2 linked regions of the Homo sapiens genome follow. The protein of the gene in region 1 interacts with the protein of each later gene in a biochemical or structural test. Each region holds a gene or a part of one and is shown on either strand. Other genes may lie near its edges.

Region 1 (3,749 bases):
ACAAAAAAATAAGAAGAATAAAATAAAAAGAAAAAATAGAAAAACAGATAATGCACATGAAGCTTGCTCTAGCACAGTATTTGACATATAGAAGACACTCAGTGGCAGCAATGGCTCTGATCACCACCAGACAGATGGACAAACTGAGGTACAGAGAAGGTAGAAAGCTTGTCCAAGGACAGTCTGGGTGTGGGCAGCTGCACAGCCCAAGCAGCAGCTTAGAGCATCCTAAGAGAATTTGAAAATTTCCTAGGAGAGCTCCATACTGGGTGGGTGAAAGAAAGGGTCTTTCCCTGGGACATCACCACCTTTTGAGGGTGACAGAGAGATGGCCTCCTCCAAGACCAGTTCCCCCAGGCTCCAGTGAGGAGAGGAGGGAACAGGAGAAGGGAGAAGCAGCAGACCTTTGAGGGCAACTCTCACGGTCTCATGGTTTCTGACTCCTTCTCTCACTTGATTTTCACTAATTGTCTAAATACTGTTAGAGTTCAGTTAGCGTTACTTAGAATACCGTAAAATTGGAAACAACTTCAAATGTCAATCAACAGGGGGGCTGGCCAAATTAGTAGGGTTTATCCATTAAAAATTTAATTATGAAAGTATAACATACCTATTGCAAAAATTTTTGAGATAGATTTTATATCTACTGACATAAAAAGATGTCAATGTGTAGTTACATGAAAAATGCAAGTTGTAAAACAATAATGCAATGTATGATCCCATTCTGGTTTGTATGTTTATGTTGGTATAGAAAATATCCTGGAAGGATACACAACATGCTGTTATTAGCTACGACTGGAGAGTAGGATTTGTTTGGGGATCTAAGGGGAGAATACACTTTTTTTCTTTCTTTCTTTCTTTTTTTTTTTTGTGACGGAGTCTCGCTCTGTCACCCAGGCTGGAGTGCAATGGCGCAATCTCGGCTCACTGCCCCACAACCTCTGCCTTCCGGGTGCAAGAGATTCTCTTGCCTCAGCCTCCTGAGTAGCTGGGATTACAGGCGCCAGCCACCATGCCCGGCTAACTTTTTGTATTTTTAGTAGAAATGGGGTTTCACCATGTTGGCCAGGCTGGTCTTGAACTCCTGACCTCAGGTGATCTACCCGCCTCAGCCTCCCAGAGTGCTGGGATTATAGGCATGAGCCACCGTGCCTGGCCTACACTTCTGAATTATTAGATTTTCCACAAATTTTTTTTGTAATTAAAACTAAAGAAAAGTAAATATAACAGTAAAGAAATATTTGTTTTTCTGTTTTATTCACTTCCCATATGCTTGCTGGAACTCCATTTTCTACCTGTTTTCTTCCAATCTGTATCTATGTTCATACCTAATTTTATACCATTGTAATATGAATACTGATAATCTTATGGGTCTTCTTTCCCATTTAACATTAATTGTATCAGACCATTAATGACATCACATCATGACATCATCATCATCTCCACTAATGTTCATGGATACTTCACTATGTACTAGTTACCATGCCAAGATGTTTACATGCCTTAACTTATTCAATCTTGATGACAACCCTAAAACCAGGTACTTGGACTATCCACATTACAGCTGGGCAAACTGGGGCTTTGAAAGATTAATTAACTTGCCAATTGCCTCACAGCTAGTAAAAACAGAAAGAAGACTTAAACCCTGTTCTATGCAAGTGCCAGGTCCTCACTGGGAACCTCTCTGTCCTATTCCCCTCGAAGATAGTGAGTGGTTAGTGAGAAGAATGTGGCAAGTAGGGAATAGCAAGAATATGGCAGGCACTATGTCTTACAACTTGAGTGACCTTGATCAAGTCACTTCCCCTCTTGATTAGTTCACTCATTCTTTCATCGGACAAGTATTTGCAAACCACTGAGCAACATGCTGCGACGAAACAATGAATAAAATGTGAACTCAACTCTGCCTTCAAGGAGACTGGAGTCTAGCGTCATTCTCTTCAAACACAGAAAGGATCTAGCCCCGGCCCCACCTCTGTCGCAGAGCAGTCATAAGCACAAAATGAATCAAGGATGCAAAAGAGCTTTGCAATTGCACAGCTCCATCCACTGCAAGCAGTTTTTCTGTGGGTGTTCACCACTGCGTATTATTTTATCCAGTGGATGTTCCAAAGCTTTCCCAATCATCTTCCTATTGTTGGACACTTAGTCCCAATTTACTGCTATTATAGAGGAAGCTCTGATGGGGATTTATTCAAAAGAAATAATTCAAAGGAAAAACAGGCCAGATGTGCAAAAAAGATGCTACCCAATCTTCCAGATGACTAAAGGGAGACCAGCCCTTCTCAAACTCACCAGGCCTGAAACAGAATTCCTGACCCTGTGGCCTTACCCACTCCAAGCTCCTCCTTCTCCAACCTGGCGAACCACCCACTACCAGAGGGACACCTTAATGAGTGCCAATCTTGATCCCTCCCCAGCCCTCCAAGTCCCCACAGTTAAGGTTTCTCCTGTAAGATCACGTCCACCCTCTCCTGTGGATCATACGGTTGCCAAAAGGACCTTCCCAAAACACAGTTCTGTCATGCTCCTCAGCAGACTAAAATCCTGCAAAGATTCCTAGAGCATCCCGGCTCACGTCAAGTCGAAACACCTTGGCCTGACATTTAAGAGAGACAGAAGCGGGAGAGAAGTAATGTTTACTGAGTTCCTGCAATGTGTTAGCATTACACTAGGTGCTTTATATAACAACCACAACATGGTCCCTGTGAGACAGGCATGTTTATCTGCATTTTACGAATGAGGAAACTGAGGTTTGGGCCAGCTGAGTGATGTGCCCAAGGCCACGTGGCTAATACAATGCATTGCTGTGACTATAGCCTACGTCTGGTGGATTCCAGAGCTCCATCAAAAACCCAAACACTAGGTGACTTTCTGAGTCACCTCCCAGCTCACACTCCGCCACACACACTATCTGTTCCACGCACATCAGACCGCCCACTCTTCTTCAGAGGCATTCCTATTTCCTTCCCCTCTGACCTGGGGAAGTGGGTGCCCTTCCCCCTTCAACCATCGAAATCCGACTTGGCCTTCAGTGCCCAGCTCAAAGGTCCCCGTCTTCTTGAAGCCTTCCCTGAGCACCAAAATAGGAATCCATGCTGAGCCTATGCAATAGCACACTCTTTACTTTTAGTGTGTCATGTCTGCATCTCTCCCAGCTAGACTGGGAGGCCTTTGAGGAGAGGGATGCATCTGACTGAGTGACTATTTCAACTTGAACAAAACAGAGTATGGCCTCTGAGAAACTACAGGCTGCCTGGCATGGCCTTCAGGAACATGGCTCTGACCCACACTGCCTAGGTTTGAATCCTGACTCCCCCACAGCCTAGCTATTTGACCTTGAACAACTATCTAAGCCACAGCTCCATCAATCTGTAAAACGGGAAGAATAACTCCTATACCTCATCTACACCTCACAGGGCTTTGTGAAGAACGTATGAGTTGTACATGGAAGCCCTTAAAACTGGGCCTGGCACATAATAAATGCTCAATAAATGTTAGCTGTTACTATTCTGATCCACAAGCCTCTAGCCCACAAAGGAAGCAGTGCCAGCCTGCTCCACCCCCACCCATCCACCAAGGCTCAGCTCCCTGCCCACAGGGCCTCCTTAGCCCAGTCCCCACTGTGGCCTCGGGATGTGTCCAGAGCCAGCCCATCTTCCCTAAAAGCCAATGGGAGCAGGGAGTCTGGTGTTTCCCCACTTCTGGGGGACCCTGGCCAGGAAGGAGAAGGCCAAGGCTAATCCTTC
Region 2 (3,749 bases), on another chromosome or scaffold:
ACATTGTGACAATGCTTTAAATGTTGTAAAGGTTGATTCACAAGTATTGTGTCATACAATCTTCCTGATAGCCTTGGGAGGTTAGGTGAGTTGCTTAAGGACACTGCAAATGATGTCTCAAATCTGGTTGATTTCCAGTCCAATGCACTTTCTGCCAATAGTTTCACTGCCATTTCCATCTGTTTCCCCACTCCCTGAACCTCCTTGGGTACTCTGTACCTGTCCTAGGATCCCCAGCCCCTCTGCATCTTACCGGCCCCTCTGCAGACTCTGAAACCCCAACTCACCTGGCCAGCTACCGGAGTGGATGCAGCTGAGTGGCTTGGGGAGCTGGGCAGGGACTTGCAGGCAGCCAGAAGCTGTTGCTGCTTGCGCAAGGTCACCACCTTCTGGGCCACTGAGGGGAGTTGACGGAAGGAGGTGTGAGCAGGCCAGATACCCAAGACCACCCTTCCATGCCCAGCTTTGAGAAATCCCCAGTAGACAACACAGGACCCAACTTCCTTGTCACTGTGGCCTCCATGCCACCTGTGGCCTTGCCAGCTCCTCCAGCCCAGAAAGACCTTGCGACTATTAAGCAAACCTTCTCTGGCCTCCCTGATCTCTCCTCCCTCCCACAAAGGCTAATTTCCTGTCACTCACAGAGAGAGGCCTGGATGCCTGACCACTGAGAATATCCCAGGCCCCTTGCTCTGGCTTCCCACATATGCTGGAGATCACTACACTCACCCTCCTGGAAGACCCGATCCACATTGAGCCCATAGGTTGCACAAGTCTCATAGTAGCTGCAGCGTTTCATGTCCGCGCACAGAGCTCTGGCACGAGCATCTCCCACCACCCGAGGGGAGGAAGCACTGATCCTGTCTGAGGGGACAGGAAAGGGGCAGGATTGAACAAGGAGCCCCACCTTGTTCGATTTTTCACAATTCCCTTATCCTTGCACTGGGCCCTCAGGCTGGGTCCACTGGGGATGGGGTGTGAGAGATCATCTTTTCTGTGACCAGGTGGAATGGGAGTACATAAGCCCTTTCTGAGTACTGGGCCCAGTTCACACACCTAGCTGGGTGAGCTGTGTGTGTGTGTGTGTGTGTGTGTGTGTCCTCAAGGAATACTCCAGAGCTGCTGAGTGGTGCTTCCTGACAAGGTCTACATAGCTGAGACCCAGGCGCGAGCGACAATCACCCTGCCCTGCAAATCCATAGAACCCTGAACTGGTGGGAGGACACCAGCTTGTGAACTAGGAAAAGGTTGGGTGCCCATGGGTCATGGCTGGACTGCCCACTCTGCAGCAAGAAACCAGGATGCAAGCAACAGGTGGAGATAGGCACCAGCAGAACAGGCATCCAGACCAAGTCCCACCAGCTCGACACAGGGGAGTGCTGGAAAAGCATTTCCTGGCCCTGGCAGAGTCTGGGAGCCTCTGAGTCACTTCTCTGAGAACTAAAAGGTTTTCTGCTCTCTTCTTTTCATCATCATTTCCTTTGTGTTTTCACTTTGTTTTTGGATAAGTTCCTTTAAAAGGTGTCAGCCTTACCCAGCTGTCGCAAAAAGGAAGATGGAAAAGGTTTCCTATCCACCCTAGGACTTGAGATTTTCTGTGTCCTAGGATGGTGGCACTAGGAAATGGCAGTGTCAGAACACAAGGTAGGTGACATTTCAGGAGAGGCAAGGAGATGGCTACTATAGCTGTCCTTTCCTCCCTGGAGATCCCCTTTTCTCTGCTCAGACCTTGGGAAGTTATTGTTTGGTTTCATGACTCCCTTATTTGGAGACCAGGCTCCCTCCAGAAGGGTACTATAATCCAAGTGGCCATTTCCACACCTTACCAAGTTCTCACCCATGTTGGGCAATATCCCAGTAGCCTCCTTAGGGCCTCCCTTGAAAGCAGTGCTTTCCTAACCCCTCCTTACCTTGTGTCCCCACCAGTGCCAAGGCCAGGCCTCCTCGTCCCTCCCCGCGAAGGGAACTCAGCTGCCCATGGAGACGGCTCACAGCCTGGAAACTGTTCTCATCCTCCAGGCTGAAGACGAAGATCACAGCATCTGCCCAGCCTGAGAACTTGCGGGGAGTGAGGGAGCAAATGGAAAGTCAGACAGGTCTACTCCTCTGGACCCAATCCAGATGAAGACCTGGGAAACCAGAGCCCTCTCCTTTGGCCAGTGCTGACCCCAGCCAGCCTGTCCCCCACCACCTCCACCCTCACCTTGGCATCAGGTGCCCCAGCTTCCTCTCGGATTAGCACCAGATGTGTCTGTCCATCCACCAACATTTCTTTCTTGTACTGCTCACCTGTCCAGAAGAGTTGGAAGGGGTAACAGGTCAGAGGTGACAGGTCACCAAACCTCCCCATGCTCCCAGTGCTTTTGCTATTATGGCCTCATCCTTCCCCCCTGGTCTCCACACCTGCCTAATCATTGATCTCACTCCTGGATCCCTGACCCCAATGGTTAGCTTACTATGGCTCTTCAGAACTCACTCTCTGTCTTCTCCAGCACCTGGTATGAGCCAGTCAGGAATCGGTGGATGAGCGATGACTTCCCACTCCTGGCATCGCCCAGCACACCCTGAGGGCAAGGTTGTGGAGCAGAAATTGTGGGATATAAGAGAAGGCAGGATGCATGGGTCTGGACACTCCAGAAAACCCAGAGAGATAAGTCATCCAAGCAGGACCCTACAGGGCCTGGATGACAGTCATTCCAGAGAGAGCAGTTGGGAGGATCAGAGCAGCTGGGGGGATCAGAGCAGTTGGGAGGATCAGGGCATGAGTGTGGTAAGAAATGATCCCAAGCTCAAAGTGGAGCACGAGCTGAAGAATGTCAGCAATTCAGTACCAGCTTTTTTGTGTGTTGGGTTGTTTAGAAAACATACTAGATATGTTGTGTGTGTGTGTCTCTGTGTGTGTGTGTTTGTAGCATGTCACAGCTCTAGGCACTAGTTGGAAAACTTTACCCAATTCTAGGCAGTACAACATGAAGGCCAAAGGGCAGATACCAGAAATGAGAAGCCTGGAGGAGGACCATGAACAAACAGGAAAAAGGGGATGGCTGCATAAAGACTAGATAGGAAAAACTTGTGAGGAGGCTGTAGCAAACCCCATGTTGGTGCTATGAAGGCAGACTCTCAGGAGAACTGGAAAACGATTCCCTATTCCCAAAGAGAGAGAGAGAGAGAAGGAGAGGTGAAGGGAGAGAGCTGAGAGTGCAGTGGGTGGGAGGTCAGCCTTCCCTATAGGCAAGGGGACTGGGTTACCTACCAGGCGCAGTTCAGGAATGGAGCGGCTCAAAGTCCATTCCTGGCTATTGATCACAGCCTCTGTAACGGGAGAAGGGCAGTAAGAGGGGAGGCTCCTGGCTCAGAAGGACCCCCAACACTGAGCCACCCCTCCTCCCTCTGCAGCTTTCCAACCCCCCCCCAACCCTGCCTGCACTGGAGAGGTGTGTGCAACAGACAGGTTTGAGGGTGGTCCCCAGGCCTCCCATCCCAGCCACTCTCCCCCAGCTGTTGCTGCCGCTCAGTGGTTGCTTAGCAACGGAGCTAGCAAGACAAAAATACTTCAGTTGGCATCTCCCTTAAAGCACATCCCCAAACGCGGGTCCTGGCCCCAGACAGGGAGACCAGGGCTCTGACAGTGGCAGGTTCTTCCCTCTGGAAAAAGAATAGAAGAGGAGCTCCTCCCTAACCCACTGGTTCCCAGGGCAGACCCTGGGAGGAGGTGCTGAAACACAGAAGAGAGTGTGTCTTCCCCAACC

Evidence for each region. The genes of interacting proteins can lie anywhere in the genome.
Region 2: the proteins of EPB41L1 (region 1) and AGAP2 form a complex in vitro, tested with the Homo sapiens proteins (one study listed by BioGRID).

Annotation. Positions count from the first base shown.
Region 1 is NC_000020.11:36,157,711-36,161,459, reverse strand, and holds part of EPB41L1 (band 4.1-like protein 1), read right to left. Parts: intron 1-3,749. UniProt on the Homo sapiens protein: May function to confer stability and plasticity to neuronal membrane via multiple interactions, including the spectrin-actin-based cytoskeleton, integral membrane channels and membrane-associated guanylate kinases.
Region 2 is NC_000012.12:57,732,116-57,735,864, forward strand, and holds part of AGAP2 (arf-GAP with GTPase, ANK repeat and PH domain-containing protein 2), read right to left. Parts: intron 3,313-3,749; coding exon 3,254-3,312; intron 2,565-3,253; coding exon 2,477-2,564; intron 2,290-2,476; coding exon 2,204-2,289; intron 2,059-2,203; coding exon 1,911-2,058; intron 865-1,910; coding exon 730-864; intron 398-729; coding exon 288-397; intron 1-287. UniProt on the Homo sapiens protein: GTPase-activating protein (GAP) for ARF1 and ARF5, which also shows strong GTPase activity. Isoform 1 participates in the prevention of neuronal apoptosis by enhancing PI3 kinase activity.